Regions from separate parts of the Homo sapiens genome. Here regions 2 and 3 are each linked to region 1. Evidence: fine-mapped expression QTL. A gene starts in region 1. Each other region holds a variant in brackets. All regions are shown on one strand. Distances are between the middles of the regions. Region 1 holds the start of CD40LG (CD40 ligand). Region 2 overlaps ARHGEF6 (Rac/Cdc42 guanine nucleotide exchange factor 6). Region 3 has its middle 15 kb from the start of LINC00892.

Region 1 (8,190 bases):
GAAAAACTAGCAACATAATGAAAAGGACCAAAATAAACAAATGGAACTGACCCAGAGGAAAGAGGGAGAATTAAGGGAATTGAAGAAAATGTAAATATATTCTGACATGTATTGCTAGAAAAGCTAGCCAAGCGCTATTCTCCCAGGTTAGAATATTTTACAACTTCCCCTTCTATCTCTTTAAAATAATATTTAGTAATTTGGCAAACATTTACTAACTCCTTACAATGTGTCAGGAACCAAAATTTCTGGGTTTTTTTGTTTGTTTGTTTGTTTTAATTATCTTTTTCCTCTAATAGCTAATGGTAGAAAAATCAGACAAGTCCATTATGATATGATGTGGCAAATGCTATGATAGATTAAGCACAGAAGAGGTAGGGCACAGTGGCTCACGCCTGTGTAATCCCAGCACTTTGGGAGGCCAAGGCATGTGGATCACCTGAGGTCAGGAGTTCAAGACCAGCCTGGCCAACTTGGTGAAACCCCGTCTCTACTAAATTTACAAATATTAGCCAGGCAGAGTGGTGCACGCCTGTAATCCCAGCTACTCAAGAGGCTGAGGCTGGAGAATCACTTGAACCCGGGAGGTGGAGGTTGTAGTGAGCCAAGATTATGACACTGCACTCCAGCCTGGGTGACAAAGCCAGACTCCTTCTCAACAACAACAACAACAAAAAGATTAAGTACAGAAGAGAGCACCTTGTCAGCTGGAACAGAATATTTCACTTAAACATTAATAGATAGCCGGGCGCTGTGGTTCACATCTGTAATCCCAGCACTTTGGGACACCGAGGCTGGCAGATCATGAGGTCAGGAGTTTGAGACCAGCCTAGCCAATATGGTGAAACCCCGTCTCTACTAAAAAAATTTTGTAAAAATTATCCAGGCGCGGTTGCGCAAGCCTGTAGTCCCAGCTACTTGGGAGGCTGAGGCAGGAGAATCGTTTGAACCTGGGAGATGGAGGTTTCAGTGAGCTGAGATCGTGCCATTGCACTCCAGTCTGGGCGACAGAGTGAGACTTTGTCTCAAACAAACAAACAAACAAACAAAAAACATTAATAGATAAGACAGGAGAGAATTAGCCTTGGCACACAAATAACATGAATAAGCACAGCACATTTCAGGAAATAAAACTAGCTTAAAATGTTTGAGACCTAATGAGTCGTAGACGATGAGGAGAGAAATGTGGGCAGGGGTCAACTCATCTGCCATGTTAAGAATCGAGACCCTTTCCTCTAGTCTAGAGCTTTTCAGGTATATTCAGGGAAAAGAACCCTTAGGAGGCCCTTCATACAACAAACAAAATACTGTTATATTTAACTCTTTCATATGTACTGGAAATGATTTTCCAAGCAGAAATTATGACTGTGTTCTGGGTTATCAATATAAAATCACAACCACAGGCATATTCACATCAAAAACAAACTGTTGAAGTATGATCCATTGTTTTTCTTATTTTTCCCTTGATATTTGCTACAAATCAATCACTAGCTAGCAGAAAAGTAGTAGTAGAAAAGGGTGACCAATATTTAAGAAAATTCTGTGTAAAAATAACTGAAAAATGAGACTTCAATCCATTAACTTAATTCTTTCTGTAAACTTAGAAAAAGATGGTCAATATTTGATTTTGGCTATAGACACTTGCATGCACTCCTATACATGTATACATTTCTTGGAAACTAAGTTTGATAATCATTTTTGGACGTGTTAGGCAGCTGAAGATATTAAAACGGAGCCAACTCCCTGTTAGGGAGAGACAGGCATGAGAGGTTCTGAGACAAAGAACTTCTGATGCAGAATCAGAAATCAAAAAAACAGCCCAAATGAGGAAGCTGGAAAGGTAGCCAATTGTGGCATTATGGTAGAGGACCAGGCAGAAGGATGAGAGAAAGAGAAGGCTTCAACAATTGAGGTACAAGCAGGGCATTCTGGAGTCAGTTGCTGTCAGTGTGAAAGATGGATGGGGTGGGACAGAAAGAGAAACAGGGAGATAAGTTAGGATGGTACAATTCAGTAATCTACAAAGGAGAGGATATATGGGCCTGGAATAGGATGATGGCAGGGGCCATGGAGAGAAGTGGTGGCAACCAAGGTTTTTGGAGGAAGAAGCCACTGGGATTGGGGCAATCTGGGGCAAGAGAGAGTGAAAAATCATGAATGGATCCCAGATCTCTGACTTGGGCAATTAAGTGGGTGGTGGGACCATTCACAGAGATACGGAGAATCTTAAGGGAGAACAGGTCTGGATTGGAATTAGAGTGGTGAGATAAATTAATTTTAGAGCATACCAAATGTAAGATGGCTTTGGGATATCCAAGTAGAGATTTTCAGAGGTAGCTGTGCTTACAACTCTGAAGTTCAGGACTTCAGTTATAGATTTGAGATTTATCACAATGAAGGTGAGATTGAAACCCATGAAAGTTCATGAAACCCATGAATCACCCAATGAAACCATGGAGAACAAGAAGAGAGGGGAGGAGAGGAGAAGGGAGAAGGAAAGGAAATAGAGAGAAGGAATACCAAAGTTTTAAGGGATACAAAGAGGAAAGAAGATAACATGAAGAAGGATTCTGAGAGGCAGAAGCCCTTAAGAATAGGGTGATATAGAATTCAAGTGGGGAGAGCATTCAGGAAGATGACAACAGGATAATAGGTCAACAGAGTAATAGAGAGGTCGCTAAAAATAAACTCTAAGAAGTATTCAGCCAAAACTATTATTGAGCTAATAATGGTGGGATCAATTTCAGGGGAATATTGTGGGCAGAAGTCAGACTGTAGGAGGCTGGGGATCAAGAAGTTGAGGCAAGGAGGTTGGACAACAACTGTTTTTTCAAGTTGGTCACGTGAACAAATCTGTGACCTTCAGCCTCCCCTCCCTCGGGTCTTGGCTGAGCTGATTGCAGGGCCCCTGCAGCTCTGGCACTCTCAAGTTGTATAAAACTGACAGTGCAGAAGTCCTTGAGCCCATTTTGGCTCTCATGATAATTTTCCTTCAGTGGAACTAAGGTTACTTGTCTAAGAACCAAAGCCTCTGACTTGACTGATCAAAGTTCATCACGTGCATCGAAGCCACCTACTTGGCAGATGTAGTGAAAAGCTACATAGATCTGGGCCCAGGACAGGATGCTGGGGCGTGGGAGGGGAAGAAAGCAGGTGCTAACTATATAGATAGCATGCCTATCAGAGCAGTTTTTACGTTTCCTATTTGTCTCTCAAAACAATTTTATAGGAATCATCAAAGCAATTTTATCATGGTTTCTAGACCAGGTTTGGATGTGAGGTAGGGATTTCCACAGCTGCTTTTAGTTTGAAGGAAATCTGATAAGATGATGCAAAAGCCCTTCAGAAATGTGTAATCCTACACACTTCAGTGATTCAATTCATTGTCAAAACTTAAGGTGTTTTTAATATTGTTATTGTTCATTTGGTTTTTACCAACATGTAAGGAGTTGGCAATTATTTGTTAAACTCATGTCTTAGGCTAAATAAATTCCAAAAAATTCAGGATGAGAATTGTTTATTGCTTAACGTGTTTCAAATTTCTTCCATGCACATCTTTATTAGATCTTCACAGCAACCTACAGGATAAGCAAGACAGGTGCAAGTGCCTCCTTTGGGTATGAGGAAACTGAGGTCTAAAGAGATGAAGTGATTTGCCCAAGGCTCATAGCAATTTATTGGTAGAGCAAAGACTAGAATTCAGATCTCTTAACTGCAGCCTATTTTCCCTATTCTGAACTGTTACATCAGCATCAACAATTATCTAATGGATTGGAACAGTGTACACAGGCAGCTTAGCTACGTCAAGTCACGATTTTTACTTTAACTTCAATTCCAGAGTCTTGGCCTGATTTCCCTCAAGACCCTACTTATCTTTGCCTTTGCAAAATTTATTTTTCTTGCATTATCTTTCCAGCTAAATTTTATTTAATAACCATCAGCATGCTTTTTTTGCTTTATGCCATGTAGACTTGACCTGAAAACCTGCCAGGCTTTCATTGAGTTTAGTGATTAAAGAAGTAAAGTTCTGAGAAGCAATTAGTTGATGGGACACCAGTCATAAAATCAATCCAAACTTTTGTTGACATGTGTTTCTTTCTCCATATACCAGGTTCCCGCTTCGTATTAGTAAGATTGAAATTGAAATAAGTCTATTGCTGGTGGATGAATTTGTCACTTTCCTTGAAACTGGTGAACCCAAAAAGTTAGACAGTGATAGGAAAATACTGCCATTGTCTGTTAAGAAGTCTATGACATTTCAAGGCAAGAATGAATATATGGAAGAAGAAACTTGTTTCTTCTTTACTTACAAAAAGGAAAGCCTGGAAGTGAATGATATGGGTATAATTAAAAAAAAAAAAAAAAACAAAAAACCTTTACGTAACGTTTTTGCTGGGAGAGAAGACTACGAAGCACATTTTCCAGGAAGTGTGGGCTGCAACGATTGTGCGCTCTTAACTAATCCTGAGTAAGGTGGCCACTTTGACAGTCTTCTCATGCTGCCTCTGCCACCTTCTCTGCCAGAAGATACCATTTCAACTTTAACACAGCATGATCGAAACATACAACCAAACTTCTCCCCGATCTGCGGCCACTGGACTGCCCATCAGCATGAAAATTTTTATGTATTTACTTACTGTTTTTCTTATCACCCAGATGATTGGGTCAGCACTTTTTGCTGTGTATCTTCATAGAAGGTTGGACAAGGTAAGATGAACCACAAGCCTTTATTAACTAAATTTGGGGTCCTTACTAATTCATAGGTTGGTTCTACCCAAATGATGGATGATGGTAGAAACCAAATAGAAGAATGGTCTTGTGGCATAATGTTTGTTGCCTAGTCAATGAAGTCTCATATTCTTGTCTCTGGTTAGGATCTTGGGATCTGGAGTCAGACTGCCTGGGTTCAAATCTTGGCTCTGCCCATACCATCTCTGTTATCCTGGGGCAAGTGCCTCAGTTTCCACATCTGAGAAATGGGGATGGTATTGGTGTCCATTTCATAGATTAAGTGAGTTTAGCCTTGTAAAAAGCTTAGGAGGGGGTCTGATACATAGTAAGCACTATGTACGCACTAGCTATAATTATTTGCTAAAGTTCTGCTTTAAAAGTAAGCTATTTTTTTATGGAGACAGCTTTTTTCTTTTAAATTTCCAGCTAGGCAAGAAGAGCGTCAATTTGATCTAAAATTTCATAATGCTTCAGATTAACATAGACATGGATAAGTCCCAGAATTTGCAGTCTTTTAGTAAAAGTAGCATTTTCTGTGTAATTCTTCACAAGCACTGATTGTAGTTGCAGGATGCTCAGTCTCCCTCTGAGATGTTTTACATTTTTAAATGGTTAGACTTGCAGGAACAAAAGAGCAGAGTAACTTAGTAGGCTGTTTTGCATTCTTAGGAAAAGAAAACCATCAGGACTTATTTTGTTTTCATGTATTTTTTCACTTCCACTGAGGAGTATAATTGGCTGGTGTTGACAAAATACCAATCATAGATGTAAAGGAGAAAGTTGATTAGTTTTCTGGCTGTTCCTAAAATTCTGGATGCAGGAACTGTGGCTAGAAAGCATCTGGATGATTGCACTTTATCAGGGATACTTGAGTGTCCTCTCTTAGGATCTGGACCTAGAATTAATGTCATGAGATTTTTCTAACAGGATAAGGTGAGGTAGTGAGGGCTGAAGTCATCCACTGGGTTATCCAAATATTAGGTTTCACTGCTGACAAAAGAGGGGGCTTCTGGTCTGGTTGGTTATTTGTGTTTGGCCTGATGTGCTCTGTCAATCAAATGTATGGACATAGGCCTAGCTTCTAAAGGGGCAATAGTGACCTCAGTGGACTGATATTTACCGTACTATTTACATGTGCTCTTAATTACAGCAGAAGCTGCCAGCTAACTGAATCTTGTTTTGAATCTAAAAAATCTACTCTTAAAGCAAGAAAATGGTATAAAATTAGTTGATAATGCAAGTGAATTCTGTACATTTAATTATTCTAAGACATTGGAAAATAAAATATCTTGTTACTTTGAGGATAAAAGATGATTTCTTTAAAAATGCAAATGTTTTCTACAAATACTAAAGTTAAAAGGGAGAGAGATGTAATTAGAACTCGTTAACTGACACATTGCAAATTAACTTCTTTTTATAAAGCACTGCATCACAAACACTAAAATGAAGTGGGCAAATTAGCTCTGCAGAAAACTATTTTCTAGGCTGATGTTTATAATGACCAATCATTACTGAAGCAATGAGAAATGTGACAATTACAGAATATTGCTGCTATAGTATGTTGAAAAAATATGCATTTTGTAGTGAACATTTAGTAGAATAGCTCTGATTTCTACCTGGAGTTTCTGATAACATGACATCTTAATTGCTGTCTTTTATAGATTTTTAAACTGCAAATACAAAATAGCAATCAGCCAATATAATAACTTATTATTCTCCATTTATGCCTGAAAGTCCTCCTCTTGTTGATGCCGTGGAAATGAATGTAGAGGCAGATATCATTAGCTGTATTCTCCTTCCGAATGACATTTATCATATCCTTGTTATTCCAAAATAGATAGAAGATGAAAGGAATCTTCATGAAGATTTTGTATTCATGAAAACGATACAGAGATGCAACACAGGAGAAAGATCCTTATCCTTACTGAACTGTGAGGAGATTAAAAGCCAGTTTGAAGGCTTTGTGAAGGTAAGCAGCTTAATTACTGGTAAAAGTGTCATTGAAATATTTTACTACATTTGCTAGATCGGGAAACTGACAATGCCAATGTTTAAAGATTGGTTATAGACACAGACACACAGACACACACACACATATATATGCATGCAGATATACACACATACATGGGTGTGTGTGTGGGGGTTAAAAAAAAAAAACACAAAGACACTCTCTGGGGAAAATACACCCTTAGGGGCACAGTCACACATATTTGTCAGCTTACATATGCAGCTACCACTAGGCAAAATGATGAAGTCCACCAAGCTTGGTTTTTGCATTGCTGTGTCTCCCCATCCAAACCTTGATGCTCTCGCACTGGGGACCCAGAGTCTGATCCCCATTTCCCAGGGAAGCAATAGCCGTCAACAGCTGCCGTGGCAGCAGGCCACAAGTGAAGGGACACCTGAAGACTGGTAACAGTCTCTGGTGCTTCTCTGATGATGGAATTTTAGGTGTCCTGACAGTGAGATCTTTCCCTTTTACTGGGGAGAGAGGTGCAGGGAATAAGTAATAGACATTCTCAGTGTCGCTCAAACCAGACTCCATATAATATCACTTGCTCATGAAGCCCGCCCACTCTATGGCCGGTCATGACCAGAGGCACAGAGGGTTCAAAGCCTTTTAGCCCACCAGGCTGGTAGCTAGCATGAAGTCACTGCAGTGACTGTGGCTTATAACAGATACCTAAAACAAGAATTTTTAGAACCTTTACATTAATTCCATCATCACAGACATAGGGTCTAGGGGCTCTTTCTCCTGAGGCAGAACATCAAGAGTTCTTTCTGCCTATGTCCCTTTCAGAACACTGAGTCAAATACCCTTGGGCCTCGGCTCACTTAGGGGTCATTTCTAGGAGGCAGCACTCCACATTGAGGACAGTTCTGGGCCAGGTGGGTGGGTATCTGGGTAAACCAACAGGAATTAGTTCTCACATATAGATGATGTGTAATTTAATGCAGGCGTAAAAGGGTTAAGATCTTATTTCTGATCTTATTTCTGCCCTCCTGTACTGTCACCGAGGTGCCATTTAATTCATTAGTGAAGACTCTAACAGCTTATTCCTGAGTCACCTACGGAGAACAGAATGTGGCTCAAATCCGCTGCTTGCTTTCAGGTTCTTTACACTAATCTAGGCTTTAGATGAAACTCCTAAACCCTTTCTTTGCAAGACTGGCCAGCTAGGAAAATGATTTGAGTTTCTTCGGTTCTTCGAGGATTTGGGCCAGTATTACAGAGTATTGGAAGATGTTACCAGTTTAAATGTGAATAAAGGCACTTTCAAAACAATGGCTAATAATCCAAATAACAGACTGAATGTGCTTGGCTATGTGACTTTGGGTAAATAACTTCACCTTTCTGGGCCTCAGTTTTGTCATCTATAACATGAGAAGACAGATTATCTGTAAGGGCACTATCAGCTCTGACATTCTACAATTATGTGATAAGCCTTCAGTTCCCTC
Region 2 (8,190 bases), 55 kb after region 1:
CAAAGGTCTGTTGGAATAAGAATATAATACCAGATAGTAACACAAATTCACAGGAAAAAATGAAGGGAAATAGAAATGGTAAATAAGAAAGTTAATATAACAAACACTATAAATATATTTTTCCTTTCCTTTCTTCTCTCAGTTGTATTAATGGACATAAAATTAAATAACAATTATAGCATGTATTATTGTGTATATGGAGTTCATATTTATAATAATAATAACAAAAAGGGAAGAGGAAACAGTTATACAGGAGTCACATTTTTATATATAACTAGAATTAAGTTAGCATAAAAAATGAAGTCCATTCTGATAAGATATATATGGAAAGTTTTAGAGTAACCACTAAAAGACACCCCAAAATATAGTGAAATATTATAGAGAAAATTTATAACAAAAACGTTTAAAATAATAAAAAAATAAAATATAGTGAAAAAATCATTAAAGCACTTCTGATTTCAGCTCTGACATCGAAAGAGCTTGGAAGTCATCACACTATAGTCATAATTAAAAAAATACTGAACAAACTGAAAATCAATGACTTTTGTTAGATTTACTGAGAATTGAGATCACAGAAAAAATCACCACCTCAAAATCTGGAGAAACAGTGAATACAGAGAATTACAGCTGAGATTAGCTTCCCTAAAGCAGAAGCCACTGGACCCAGTAACTGGCAGGAACACTTGCATAGTGATTTTAATGAATTCCTGGAGTCTGAATGTGGACCCCAACTTGAGATTTAAAAGCTCCTGGAGAACCATCTTGAGGCGGGGCAATGCTTTTGTGGGTTTGGGATCCAAAAACCCAAAAATGTTCCATAGTGAAGATCAGAGAAAAATCCTCTCATGTTTTGGGATAGGAGTGGGGGCGGGGTGGAGCATCCATTTTGAAATAATCCCAGAACCTTTTCCAAAACAAAGGCCTGTCTTCCAAGGGAAACTATGTTGCCAAGTCTTATCTGACCTGAGGAAGGTACAATAGGCCAGCTTCAGCCCTCTCTCATCTTCCTGCCATATGTGAGAGGACTAAAAAAGGCTAAGAATTGCTTCTGGAGGTCAATTTCCAGGGACTCAGGTCTACTAAAAAATTGAGACTTGTTCATAACATTATAGAATGTGTCCCCTTCCCCAACACCTTATCACCACATTGACAGGGCCCCAATATATAATAACAGTGGATTACAGGGAGGGATCTGCAAGACACAGACTCTATTTAAGAAGGAGTTCTTAAGAAACCCAAAGATAGGCAGGGCGCGGTGGCTCAGGCCTGCAATCTCAGCAGGATTGGGAGGCTGTGGCAGGTGGATCACTTGAGGTCAGGAGTTTGAGACCAGCCTGGCCAACTTCATGAAACCCTGTCTAAACTAAAAATACAAAAAAATTAGCCAGGCGTGGTGGCACATGCCTGTAATCCCAGCTACTCAGGGGGCTGAGGCATGAACATTGCTTGAACCTGTGAGGCAAAGGTTGCAGTGAGCTGAGATCGCGCCACTGCACTCCAGCCTGGGAGACAGTGAGACAAAAAAAAAGAGGAAAGAAAGGAAAGAAAGAAAGCCAAAGTTAATAAGAGAGAAGGAAAGGAAACAAAAAAAATCTAAAGCCCCTCATACTTACAGCTACAGCAAACATTAAACACAGGCAAGATCCTAGTCAGATTAACAGAAAACCTCACAGTAAACACCTAGTTACCTCAGTTCCTATTACTTAATTTATCATGTCTGCCTTCCAACAAAACATTACAAGGCATGCTGAAAGGCAAGAAAAAAACAGTCTGAGGAGACAAAGCAAGCTTTAGAATCAGACTCAGATATGACACAAATTTTGGAATTATTAGGGAATTCAAAATAACTATGGTTAATATGTTAAAGGTTCTAACAGATAAAGATAGACAACATGTAATAAAAGATGGGTAATGTAAGCAGAGTGATAGAAACACTAAGAAATGATCAAAAGAAAATGCCTGAAATAAAAAACACTGTGACAGAAATGAAGAATGCCTTTGATAGTCTAACAAATAGGCTAAACATAGCTGAGGAAACAGTGAGCTTCAAGATATGTCAATAGAAATTTCCTAAACTTAAATGTAAAGAAAAAAATTTTAAATGGAAGAGAATACACAAAAACTGTGGAACAAGTACAAAAGGTGTAACATGCATAATGGGAATATAGACAGAAAAGAAAGAGAAAAGAGAAGAAATATTTAAAATGTTGACCCTATTAGGCCAAGAATTTTGCAAAATTATTGACAGACCCCAAACTGCTGATCCAGGTATCTCAGAGAACACCAAGCAGGATATATAGCAAAACATATCTACACCTAGCCATTTCATATTCAAGCTGCAGAAAGGCAAAAGCAACGAGAAAATCTTGAAAGAAGCCAGACAGGGAAAAACACCTTACCTGTAGAGGAACAAGGATAAGAATTGTATCAGACTTCTCATTATAAACCATGCAAACAACAGAATGGAATGAAATATTTAAAGTGTTGAAGGAAAAAAATGACAACCTAGAATTCTGAATACTTTCTCAAACAAACAAAAAATGTGGGAAATTGTGGCCAGATGACTTGCCTTGCAAAAATGTTAAAAGAAGTTCTTCAGAGAGAAGGAAAGTGATATAGATTTAAAAACAACAAACAAAACTTGGATACATGGAAAAAAGTATCAAAAATAATAAATCCAGGTAAAACAAAATATTTCATTTTTCTTTTTTTTTTTTTTTTTTTTTTTGAGATGGAGTCTCGCTCTGTCACCCAGGCTGGAGTGCAGTGGCGCCATCTTGGCTCACTGCAAGCTCCGCCTCCCGGGTTCACGCCATTCTCCTGCCTCAGCCTCCCTAGTAGCTGGGACTACAGGCGCCCACCACCACGCCCGGCTAATTTTTTGTATTTTTAGTAGAGACAGGGTTTCGCTGTGTTAGCCAGGATGGTCTCGATCTCCTGACCTCGTGATCCGCCCACCTCGGCCTCCCAAAGTGCTGGGATTACAGGCGCGAGCCACCGCACCCGGCCTCATTTTTCTTATTCTTAATTGATTTAATAGATAACTGTTCAAAGTAATAATAGCAACAGTGTATTGGGTGATTTTACTTTATAGAAAAGTGAAATGAATTACAATAATATTATAAGGGATAAGAGGGAGGAATTGAGAATATTCTGTTATAAGTTACCTATGAAATTGTGTAGTGTTATGTGAAAGTGTTGTTAGATTTAGCTGTAAATACATAACATAAACTCTAGGGATACTGGTAAAATTTTTTAAAGGGAGTATTATATGCTAAGAGAAAAGTGAAAATAAAATGTTTACTAAAAACAGAAAAGGCGGAAAAATAGAGGTAAAAAAGAAACAAAGAACAATTGCAATGAATAGAAAACATGGCAGATACTAATCCAAATATATAAATAATCACTTAACATGTGAATTTTCTAAATACGCCAATTAAAAGAATGAGACTGTCAGAGTGGATTAAGAAACAAGACTCAAATATATTTTGTCTACAACATATATTTTAATCTATGACAATTAAAAGTAAAGAGATGAAGAAGGATATATCCTATTAACAATAATTGAAAGAAAGCTGGACTAGCTGTATTAATTTCAGACAAAGCAGACTTCCGATCAGGGAAAATTATCAGAGATAAAGAGGAAAAATATACAATGATAAAAGGGCAAATTCTCCCACAAAACATAATAATCCTTAATGTGAATGCACCTAACAACAGAGTATCAAAATACATGAAACAAAAATTGATAGAACTGAAAAGAGAGATAAATCTATTGTGGTTAGAATTTAACATCTCTCTATCAGGAACTGACAGATCCAGCAGCAGAAAATTAGTAAGCAGGCAGTTGAACTGAATAGAACCATCAGTCAAGTGGTTCTAATTAACATTTGTAGAATATTTCATTCAACAACAGTCACACTTTCTTCTCACACTCACATGGAGCATTCACCAAGATAGACCACGTTATGGGCCATAAAACACAACTTCAATTTATAAGAATAGAAATCAACAAATGGTGCTGGGACAACTAGATATCCACATGCAAAAGAATAAAATGGAACCATATGCACAAATTAACTCAAAATTAATTAAAGACCTAAATATAAAAGCTAAGATTATAAAACTCTAAGAAAATAAATAGGCATGAATCTACATGACCTGGATTAGGCAATAATTTCTTAGATACAACACCAAAAGTGCAAGCAACAACAACAAAACAACATATTGGACATCATCAAAATTAAAATGTAAAATCAAAATTTTTGTGCTTCAGAGAACACCATCAAGAAAC[C/T]GAAAACACAACCCAAAAAATGAAAGCATATTTTTTCAAATCATATATAGGCACACCTCATTTTATTGCAGTGTACTTTATTGAACTTCACAGATAATTGCATTTTTTACAAATTGAAGTTTTGTGGCAACCGTGTGTTGAGCAAGTCTATCGGTGCCATTTTTCCAAAAGTGCGTACTCACTTTGTGTCTATGTGTCATATTTTGGTAATTCTTACAATACTCCAAACTTTTTTTATTTTTTTTCCTGAGACGGAGTTTCACTCTTGTTGCCCAGGCAGGAGTGCAATGGCGCAATCTCGGCTCACGGCAACCTCCGCCTCCCAGGTTCAAGTGATTCTCCTACTTCAGCCTCCCAAGTAGCTGGGATTACAGCCATGTGCAAGCATGCCCAGCTAATTTTGTATTTTTAGTAGAGATGGGGTTTCTCCATGTTGGTCAGGCTGGTCTCAAACTCCTGACCTCAGGTGATCCGCCCGCCTTGGCCTCCCAAAGTGCTGGGATTACAGGCATGAGCCACCACGCCCAGCCAATAAAGTATTCTTTAATTAAGGAATGTACCTTGCTTTTTTAGACATGATGCTATTGCACACTTAATAGACTATACAGTAGAGTGTAAATATAACTTTTGTATTCATTTGGAAACCAAAAAGTTCATGTGACTCACTTCATTGCAATATTCACTTCACTGTAGTGGTTTGGATCCACAGTATCTCCAAGGTAGACATGTATCTGGTAAGAATCTAATATCCAGAATATATAAAGAACTGTTGCAACTCAACAATGAAAAGATAGCTAACTGAATTTTTTAAATGAGCAAAAGATTTAAATAGACATATTCCCAAAGAAGACATTAAAATAGCCAATAAGCAAGATGAAAAGATGCGCAACATCACTAGCCATTAATAATGAGTGACTGTTACTGGGGACAGGTTTTTAGAGGGGAGTAATAAAAATGTTCTGGAGCTAGACAGTGGTGATGGCTACACAACCTTGTGAATATATTAAAAACCACTGAATTGCGTAGTTTAACATCGTGAATTTTATGTTATATAAATTATATCTCAATAAAAATACACATAACCCAATTTAAAAACAGGCTAAGGATCTGAATAGACATTTCTTTGAATGAAGGTATACGAACTTCCAGTAGGTACATGAAAGATGCTGTATTAGTCCGTTTTCACACTGCTATAAAGATACTATCTGAGACTGGGTAATTTATAAACAAAGGAGGTTTAATTGACTCACCATTCCACATGGCTGGGGAGGCCTCAGGAAACTTACAATCATGGTGGAAGGAGAAGGAAAGGCAAGTACTTCCTTCACAAGGTGGCAGGAAAGAGAGCAAGAGCGACGGGGGAAGAGCCCCTTATAAAACCTTCAGATCTCGTGAGAACTCACTATCATAAGAACAGCTTGGGGAAAACCACCCCCATGATCCAGTCACCTCCCACCTGGTCCCTCCCTCGACATGTAGGGTTGACAATTCAAGATGAGATTTGGGTGGGGACATAGAACCAAACCATATCAGATGCTCAATATCATTATTCCTGAGGAAAATGCATATCAATCTCACCATGAGAAACCACTTCATATCCACTAATATGTCTATAATCAAAAAGACTGACAATAACAAATGTTTGGTGAGGGTGTGGAGAAAATGAAACCCTCATACACAGATAGTGAGAAAATAAATTGGTGCAGTGACTTTGTTTTGTTGTTGTTGCTGTTGTTGTTTTGTTTTTGTTTTGTTTTTTGTCTGAGGCAGAGTCTTGCTCCGTCAAGTGAAGCCAAGGTGGGCGGATCATTTGAGGTCAGGAGTTCGAGATCAGCCTGGCCAACATGGTGAAACCCCATCTCTACAAAAATTAGCTGGTCGTGGTGGTGCGTGCCTGTAATCCCAGGTACTCTGGAGGCTGAGGCAGGAGAATCGCTTGAATCTGGGAGGCAGAGGTTGCAGTTGTGCTCCAGCCTCGGTGACAGAGCAAGACTCTGTCAAAAAAAAAAGGAAGGGAAGAGGAGGGGAGGGGAGGGAGAAAAGAAAAGGGTAACTTTCTATTGCTTAAGCCAGGTGGTAGATACACAGGTGCTCATTTTATTGTGATCCTTTAAATTTGCATTTACATTATTCTTTCTGTGGATAAAATATATGTCTTAATAAAAATATTTTTTAGAAGTCTGACAGACCTGGATTCTGGCTCAACCACTTAAGATCTATGAGTTCTTGGGCACATTACTTAACCTAAGCCTTCCAATGTCTTATCTGTAAAGCAGAGATGGTAATAATAATAACTCCCTCATAGGCTTTTACATCATGTGCCTGGCACATCGTCAGTGCTATTACTAGCTAATGTTAGCTATAAGCAGTTGAGCCACTTGCCTAAAAATGCCAGGTTCATGACCTCTCTTTCTTTAAACTCCAATTTCCATATTTGCTATTCCATAAGAGTTCAAAATTTATCAGAGGAATAAAATTGACCTTCAAGCAGGACTTACTGCGTTCAACCTTTAAAATGTCCTTACATAACATCTTTGTAAAGCCAATAAATATTGCACCTTAATAAACCAGGACAAGAACCAAAATTTCTGTCATTTCTGGAGGCTCGTGTCAACTAATGTTCTAGCCTAGCTCTGGGAGCTCAAATCTAGGTCAGATTAAGAGAATATTATTTTCAGTCTTGAACAGCTTCCAGAATCCATGTCCATTCTGCATCTTAGTCTCCAAGTTAAGTCAAGAGTCTCTATATGTTGGACTTGCTTTTGTCCCACCTGGATTTCCAGCATATGACTTCAAAGGTAAAATTCTGTCACTAAGCCTGTCCTACAGTTTTCTGGCCCAGATGAATGTGTCAGTGAATGTGTCAGGGGTGGGTAGTCAGAAGCTAAGGATGGCAGGAGAGGTGTAACACTTATCTAGGTCCCTTGCAAGGACTCGTATTCTTAAAGGAGACACTATTCTATTGTTCATCATGAATCGGAAGCAACTTATATTCATGTATAATTATTATCAGAGCCCTTTGCTTAAAGTATCTGTCACACAGCTCACACCTGCTTTGTAGCTACATCATTGCCTAAAACTTTCTCTACGCAGACTAGGGAAGGCAAAAAGAGATGAAGCTACACAGTTTAGCTATGTGTCAGCAACTCAGAAAAAACATTCATTGGGGTAGGGGAAAGCTAAATGATAGGCTCGAAATAGAATTTTGCTTCAGGAAAGCCCTCCCTGACCCTTTCTTCACATCCCACTAAGTTGATATCATGTTAATGTTATCTCACAGAACCCTTTTAATTTACTGTTTCATAATATGACACGTTTACAACATTTAATTTAATATCTGCATTTCCCTCAAGATTCTGTGCTCAATGAGGGGAAGGACCTCCTCCTCCTTGTTCATTCCTGTATCCCCATCAGCTGGTACAGGGCCTTGCACATAGTAGGTGCTCAAGAATTTATTCATTGGATTAATGGACAATCAATCCATGTAACAATGAATCAATTCCTGGCATCATGAACAGGGATAATCAAGAGTCCAACTGAAGACCTTGGATTTCCAAATGACGTGGTCCTAAGAAAGGATCTCATTGCAAAAGTTGGGGAAATGTTAACTATTTACCTGTGCTGAGTGAGCACATTTACAGCTGAAGGATGGTTTGCACAGTAAGCCAGATACATAGATTTAAAATGAGGCATGAGACTCAGTAGACAACCTCCTACTTTGTGCTGGTTTTCTGGAAACCTGTAAACAAAATGGACAAAACACAGAATGTAAAATAGGAAACAGGAGGCAAAGGAAGATTATTCCAATTAAACCTGGCAGCATGAAAGCCTTCTGAATATTTTGCCAAGGTTAAAAGAGAAACTATATTATAACCATTTTACCCATGAAACTCAAA
Region 3 (8,190 bases), 24 kb before region 1:
CGAAGGCCTCCAAGCTCTTCCACTCTGACTCAGAACAAGAGGCCCGTATGGCAAGCCCATTGCCCTGAATCAGAGCTTTTCCAGTGTTTGTTGATAGGAAGGGAAGAACGCAGGTATGGCAACAGTGATCACAAGATCTACAGCTTTGGAAATCTCTCAAACCAATTTCTAGTCACTCGTCATCTAAAGATTGTTCCTGAGGGGTAAAGCACCTTGATATGAAGGCGGAAACGATGACACAGTGGCTGCGAAGGGTTCCTTCTCTACCCCACCTCATCCTCTACCCCACTCGGTTCCTCAGTCCACGTTTTGGTTCATCCCTCTGGATGGAGTGAAAAGGATTTGACACCAAATTCGCAATAAGGCATGAGTAGTGTGGGTGCAACCGCTTTAGGTCATACTTAAAATTTGAAGAGAATCTCAGATAGGGTGAGAAATCTCTAAAATGGACACCCAAGCCCTGTGACCTCTCATCTCCAAGCCTCAGGGTGAAATGAGCTAGTTTAAGTGAAACCTTTCTTAATTATTCCAGTGAAACCATCTTCCCCATCCTGGTCATCTAACCAATTATCCCATTTCATTTTCTTCATAATCTTTATTACTACCTGAAAGCATCTTGTTAATTTATCTATTTGATTATTGTTTGTCTACTCTCTCAATAATGTTTATGAGGACAGGGACTTTGTCCGTTTGTTCACTCCTGTATCTTTCAGTGCCTAGAACAGTGTCTGGAACACAATAGGTGCTTGATGAATATTTGTGGTGTGAATGAAATAATAATGAACTGAAATGATTTTTAAGCAAGGTCTCCTGAAAATAAATCATTCACCCTTCCCCATAGCCTTTGACAATTCAGAACCCAAACAATTTTTTATGGGGCAAACAGACTACCCTTTGTTCTCCCTTAACATTAACTAGCAGATGTGGCAGTGATAGGAAGTGTGGGTCAGTTAGTCACCATCATGCAATGAACTTTATGTATGTATTTTAAAAAATTTTAATTTGTGTGGTTACATAGTAGGTATATATATTTATGAGATACTTTAGGTATTTTGATACAGGCTTGCAATGTGTAATAAGCACATCATGGAGAATGGGGTATCCATCCCCTCAAACATTAATCTTTTGTGTTACAAACAATCCAATTACACTCTTCTAGTTATTTTTAAATGTATGATTAAGTTATTATTGATTATAACCACCCCGTTGTGCTATCAAACCATAGGTCTTACTCATTCTTTAACTATTTTTTGTATCCACTAACCATCCCCACCTCCCCCTCTACCCACCACCCTTCCCAGCCTCTGGTGACCATCCTTCTACTCTCTACCTCCGTGAGTTCAATTGCTTTGATTTTTAGATTTCACAGGTAAGTGAGAACATGCGATGTTTGTCTTTCTGTGCCTGGCTTATTTCACTTCAGTGGACTTTTGGTGAAAGGTAAGCTGGAGTACAGGCTGCCTAGAGGCCAAGACACTCTCCTGGATATGTATGCACTGGCTCAAGGCCGGAAGGGAACACTTTTCACTTCTAACATAATTGAAATGCTGAAGAGGAGTTTGAAAGGTGAAGATAACAGGTCTCCGCATGACAACCCCACAGCTCTGAAAGTTCAAAGGTTTCCACTTTGTTAGATGTACACCTTTTAATGATCCCCCGCACTCTATGGCCTTTGCCCACGATAACCCTCACAACAGCAATAAGGTGTGTAGGTGGCAAGTATTATTAGGCTCACATACAGGCGGAGAAAGTGAGGCACAACCAAGGCGGGGTGAGGGTGAGGCAAGCCAGGTGAATCAACCACTTTGCTTATTGTTTACTTCATTCGAGTTGCCACTCATTGAGTGCCTACTTTGTACAAGGCATAATGCTTGAGCAATGTCAACCACTAGCCCATGTTATTTCTCCCATTCAGACAGGCCTAGGTTTGCTTGGCTCAGGACGGGGAAAGGCTTCTGCAATAGCTTAGAAGCTGCACTTGAGCATGCAGCCGCAAAAGAACAGAGCTGGGAAGACCAAAGCCCCTGAGGTGATACCCAATGCTTAAGAAGAGTGGGTTTCCTATGTAGAATGAGAGGAATCTTCTGCTTGGTTTGTGATCACAGGGTTCACTAGGGGCCAGGCACTGTGCTTTCCCTGCATTATGACATTTGGGTCTTCACAACCGTTGAGGCGAGACATAATTATCTTCCTTTGACAGATGAGGAAACTAAAGCTCATTGACTTACCTAAAGTCACGAAGCTGGTAAGTGGTAGAGTCACTTGAACATGAATCACCTAAGGTCTATCTAATCGTAGAGCCAATCCAGCTGAAGACATGTCAACCGGTATGCTGCAGCATTCAGGTAGAACACTGGGGCTCTGTTGTCCTATAGTGACCAAAAAGCTCATTCAGCTAGAGTTCAGTGCAGTCACCATTGGCATCTACAATAACATCACAAGCACTTAATAAATGTGGAGTGAATGCATGAATAATGTTCATAATGAAACATATAATCTTCAAGAAAACATGACCACATGTTTAGAGTCTTCTGTTGGGAGATAACATTTCAGGAAGTTTCTTTCCAACAACAGCTATACTTTGGAAGTTTCCACTTGTAAAAGACTGGCCGTCAACTAGCATCATGCATTGCTTGATGACAGGGTTACATTCTGAGAAGTATATTGATAGGCAATTTCCTCATTGTATGAACATCATAAAGTGCGCTTACGCAAACCTAGATGGTATCACCTACTACACACCTAGGCTATATGGTATGGCCTATTGCTCTTAGGCTACAAACCTGTACAGCATGTTATTGTACTGAATGCTGTAGGCAATTGTAACACAGTGCTCAGTGTCTGTGTATCTAAACATATCTAAACATAGAAAAGGTACAGTAAACAAATACGATATTGTAATCTTATGGAACCACCTTTGTATATGCAGTTCCATGTTGACCAAAATGTCATTATGCAGCCCTTGATTGTACTTGAAAAATGAGCTTCTCTAGAAGAGTGTTTCCCCTGATGGTTCTGGATAGTGGACTTGCTTGCCTCCACTGATCTTCCTTCACATGCAGTGAGTAGGCAGTATGCAGTTGCAGTGATGGTGAGCATAGACTCTGAAGTCAGACTGCTAAGGTTCTAATCTTGGCTCTGCCAACTTGCTAGCACAATAACCTTAGGCAAGTTACTTCATCTTTGTGTACCTCCATTTCCTCATCTGTTGTGGGGATTAAGTGAGTTATTATTTGTAAAATACTTAGCACCTGGCACATAGTAAATGCTACGTAAGTTATTATGCTGCTTCAAGTAATAAATGAACCTGTGAATAAAAATTGGCCCATGGATAGGCCACTAAATAGACAAAACAGAAGCATTAAGTTGAAGTTTAAACCTTCAAGTTATAACTTCCGTGCACCAAGCATTTCTCTTTCCTCTTTTCACTGTTGTTGAGATCTGGAGTAGTTAGACTGTGGCCCACCAGAAGCCACACTCTGTGACCATCAAACCCCAGAATTGCCCACCTCTGTCTTCTAGAAACTCTGGGTAGGTGACTCAGCACTCACTTGCTAGTTCTCCTGTAGTACCCTAAGCCTGAGGCTAGCCTGAACCACAACAGTGGGTGATCTTGGCAGTGTCTGTTGGGTGGCCCCTCTCTCTCCTATTAAAAATAGCTTCCTAATCTTTGTTAGTGAACTATAGGACTGATTCAAGACAATTTTGTCATCACCAAGTTGGCTTTTTCCATCCCGCTCCTGATTACATGTCCTCCCTCCTCTTGCCAGGCTACCCGTGAGCTATATCCTCTATTTTTCAAAGTTAGCCGTAGCAAACCACACCTTTGGAGCATCTGAATA[C/G]GAGGTCTATAACATCTCTATTTACGTTCTCAGTAGTAAAATGCCTCTATATCTTTTAAAAAAAATCTCTAAGCTAATGTTTTCTATTTTTCTCTTAAAGTTAGGAGATTTGGAGAACTCTATATTAGAAAGCTCCAAAGAATAAAAAAGGGCATGATTATCTTTTTTTCTTGATTCAGAAGAGCACATTCTGTCAACAAAATATTACTTCATGCACGTGGAGCGTTCTCACGAAACATTCATCTGTCCTTATGAAATGTTGAATTTTGCAAATAAAAGGTATATGGTGCATAATTTTAATATTGAATTGATGGAATTTCCTCCCTGACATCTGAGTTCTCTTGCTTAACAAACACTTCTCTCTTCACTAAGCAGCCCTATACTCAGGTTTGTTTCTACTCTTCTGCTCTTCTCTCCACTCCTCACCCGTCTCACCTCCACTACCAGTTGCTCATCCCTATTTATTGTTGGACTAAACAAAGATGACATGGTATGCATTGAATTGTGTCCCTTGAAATTAATGGATCAGAATCTCTGGTGTTGGAGTCTTGGGATTTGCATTTTAATGAGTTCCACTGCTCTAAGATCTCCTTCACCTTCACATTTCATGAGTCTATAACATATTATCCACTTTGCCCCATCCCCATAATCTATTTAGAAACAGGATCATGTCTGGGTCTTGTGCTGCTCTTGCCTTCTGGTTTGATCCTTAGTACTACTGGTGATTGAAATCCTAACCCTGGTACTTCAAAATATGACCTCATTTGGAAATATGGTTATTGCAAATGTAATTAGTTAAGATGAGGCCCCACTGGCGTAGGGTGAGCTCTTAATCCAATATAACTGCTGTCCTTATAAAAAGGGGAAATTGGGAGACAGACACGAACACACATACAGACACACGCACACACACACACACACACACGCACACAGAGACAGAGAGAGAGAGAGGGAGAGAGAGAATGCTATGTGAAGATGAAGGCAGAGATCGTTATGAATGCATCTACATACCAAGGAACACCAAAGATTGTCAGCAAACCATCAGGAGAGAGATAAAACAGACCCTCCCTCTGCATCTCCAAAAGGAACCAATCCTGCTGACACTGTGATTTTGTACTGCCAGTCTCCATAGTTGTGAAACAATAAATTTCTGTTGTTTAAGCCACACCCAGTTTATGGTACTTTGTTACAGCAGCCCTAGCAAACTAATACGCTATATATATGTGGTCAATTAATATTTTTGTTTTTGGCTAGGTAAGGTGACCAGATGTTCAAGTTTTTAATACTGTGTATATGTCAAGGGGTCGGGTCTCCTGGGGAAAGTTCTCAACAGAATAGATATATTCGAGGGCCCAGGGATCCAGATGTGTAACTGGATGTGAAATAGCTGGCTGGCTTAGCCAACAGAAATGACACTTTGTCCTTACAGCCTGGCACTCTGGCCCCAAGGAAGTCTGTGTTGCAGTTCAGTCAGTTTACAGGGAACAATGAAGCTGAGGGGGCCAGATCCTTCTTGTGGGTGCCCCTCCCCTGCTAGCACAGCCCATTCAGTCTAAAGCTTCTAGTGAGCAGTAATACTGGCTGTAGCTGGAAACAACAGGCCAACTGGAATCCTTGGCCATTGGTACACACTCACATGGAAAGCCCGGAAGGAAAAAGGACTCTCACTAGGACCATCACAGAGAGGAAAAGGCCCTGGGCTGAGTAACCTGGCATCTTAATTTTGTTCTCAAGGCCCTTGAGCAAATGACCAATGTCTCAGGGCCTCTGTTTGCTACTTTGTAAAATAAATGGGCTCTATAACCATCCTGCTAAGGTAGGCTTTCTCAAAGTAGCCCAGCATGGACCACTGGCAGCACAATCACCTGATGTATTTGTTCCCAGCCCGGATCCACTGGATCAGAATCTCTGGTGTTAGAGTCTTAGAATCTGCATTTTTAATAAGTTTCATTGCTCTAAGATCTCCTTCACCTTCACATTTCATGAGTCTATGATGTATTACCCACTCTGCCCCATCCCTATCATCTATTTAGAAACAGGATCATGCCTGGACCCCATGCTGCTCTTAGCTTCTAGTTTGATCCTTAATACAGCTGATGATGTCCTCAAGTGCTTTCTAGCTGTGAAAGCCATATTTCCACTTCCAGCAAAGAATGATCCAGAGCAAGGAGAAAAGCAAAAATAAAGCTTTAGTGAGAAATAGTTTTGAAAGTACTAGCTTAACATAAACTTTTGATATTGCCTGGCTTTTAATTTTCCAGAACCTGTTTGTCCCTCATGAACACAAACGATCAGTAGGTACCCTCACTATTTCCTTGAACTCATTCCTTTGACCAAAAAAAAAAAAAAAAAAAAAAAAACGGAGAGAAGGGTAGGTTCACTAATCATTTGAGTTCTACCAAACATCACATAATTGTTTTGCATATCAGTATTTTGTCCTTTCCTGCTAAAGGTCTTTCCTTGGGTTTGCAAATAGAAGTTTGAGAAGAGTCCTGGTACTGACTGAGCTTTCTTGGTAATGTCACGAAATTTCCAACCACAAAGTCAATCTTCATTTGAGTCAGAGCAATTAGAGGAAGACTAATGGCTGTGGACAAACTACTGAAATATTTTACTGAGGAAGCTAAGTAGGCAATTCAAATGGGAGAGACTTTTTGTAAGGGTGGAGTACCATCTGCCACCTTCTAGCAGGGAAATGAACAGAAGCTGTTCTTAAAGATGAGGAAAAAATTTGAGTATTCAAGATTCCCTCTGACGAACTGTAGGGAATGGCATTGAAGGATGTTTTACTGGGCCTTATTGTGACACCTGTTTTTCACAGTATTTCTATAATTCAAAGTTTAAACTTTGATTTTCAAATCATCTGGCATTGCCCACATTCCAGTACCTGGGATGCTTGAGTTTGGTTCCTCAGGAAAAGCTGCTTATTTCAATTGATCTAGGAAACTATTGACCAAAGTCAATAACTCTTGGGCTCAGTTTAAAAAACATACTGTAGAGTCAGTTAGAAAAGCACAGAAAGGTCTTTTTTTTTTAGCAGAATGTTGGCTAAAGGGCTAGTACCCTGTTTAGAAGTCAGAATAGCTCTTAGTATACCCAAAGACACCAAATGTTCAAATGACTTTTTTCGCTTGAGAACACAATGGTGCTGGTGGCTTTGTTATTTCCTGAGGTTTGGCAGCCAGTGATGAAGATTTCCTTGTATCAAGAACATGCTTCTTTCATGTAATCTAGGATACTAAAAAGGGTCCATCCTAATAAAAGAGGCCCATGATGCAAATGGTTTGGGTTGGCAATTCCTGTGCAAATCAACAACCACAAATTATAGATTTCAAAGAGTCCTAAGCATTAACTGGCCTCTAAGTAAAACTTAGGGTTAGAGGTTTTCAGCAATGTGACAAAATGCAGTCATTCTTATCAGGATTATAGAGTCTCAGTGACACTTCCATCAGCTGAGCCAGTTAGTGTCAGAAAGATTCTGCTTCTCATGTTGGGATTTAACTTGATGTCCTCCAAGTTGCTAGAATCTTCTTAATTGGTTACCACGGGGGTGGGGTGTAAACCCACCGGGGCACACTCTCCAGCAAACCAAACAACCAGATTAAAAGGATGTGGGAGAGGCTTACACACACACAACCCCCACATCAAGGCCACTGAAACACCTCTTTAGCTGGGAGTAGGTCATGTAGGTGATAGGTGCCAATATAGGATCTAAGTTTGAGGGTGGGAGACTTGGGTCACTAAAAATGACTCATCCAGTGGTACTCATACATACTCCATTTCTCGTGAACTTGATGCGGCTCATGCAGCTCCAACTTAAGGGTCTTTGAAGAAATGACTATCCCTGCCAGAAAAAGTAAAAGCTCTTTGAGGACAGAAGTCATATCTTGAACCTCTTAACCTTGTATCTATTGCAGAGAAATAGGAGAAAAAACACAATTTCACAGTGATGTGATGTCATTAAAGGGAAATATTTTATCATCTTGCCTTCTAAAACAGTGGCTATTAAAATATGAGGCAACATAGAAAAACGCTTATTAGGAAAGGCTAAGTGAAAAAAAGCAGGATGCAAAAATTACATGTATTCTATTATTATAACCATGAAAAAAATATATAAAAATAAGACTAAGAAGGAAATATGACAACAATAGTTATGTTAGAAAGGTAGGTTTTTGAGTAATTGGTAATTGTATTCCTTTTCTCCTTTTTTGGTAATATTGTTAAATTACTTTTATGCTTTTTCAGAATTTTATTTAAAAGAGGGGTTTCTGTGCAGGTATTATACAATCAAGTCCCCAGGCTGAAACCATGAGTTGATTTTTCCCCTCACCTACCCCAGTCTTCCAGA

The links. PIP is the estimated chance that this variant, and not a neighbour inherited with it, causes the effect.
Region 2: its variant is fine-mapped to the expression of CD40LG in whole blood (TOPMed, PIP above 0.99).
Region 3: its variant is fine-mapped to the expression of CD40LG in whole blood (TOPMed, PIP above 0.99). The same link has a PIP of 0.9 or more in blood mononuclear cells and lung.

Annotation. Positions count from the first base shown.
Region 1 is chrX:136,643,698-136,651,887 of GRCh38, forward strand. It overlaps CD40LG (CD40 ligand), which reads left to right and starts at 4,461. Exons shown (of 5, transcript NM_000074.3): 1 at 4,461-4,707; 2 at 6,569-6,700. The coding sequence starts at 4,552.
Region 2 is chrX:136,698,998-136,707,187 of GRCh38, forward strand. ARHGEF6 (Rac/Cdc42 guanine nucleotide exchange factor 6) reads right to left here. Exons shown (of 22, transcript NM_004840.3): 9 at 7,911-8,033. Among named protein-coding and RNA genes, the nearest start is that of CD40LG, 55 kb to the left of the region's middle. The variant C/T (reference allele first, on the strand shown) is at 4,295.
Region 3 is chrX:136,620,074-136,628,263 of GRCh38, forward strand. No RefSeq gene overlaps it. Among named protein-coding and RNA genes, the nearest start is that of LINC00892, 15 kb to the right of the region's middle. The variant C/G (reference allele first, on the strand shown) is at 3,843.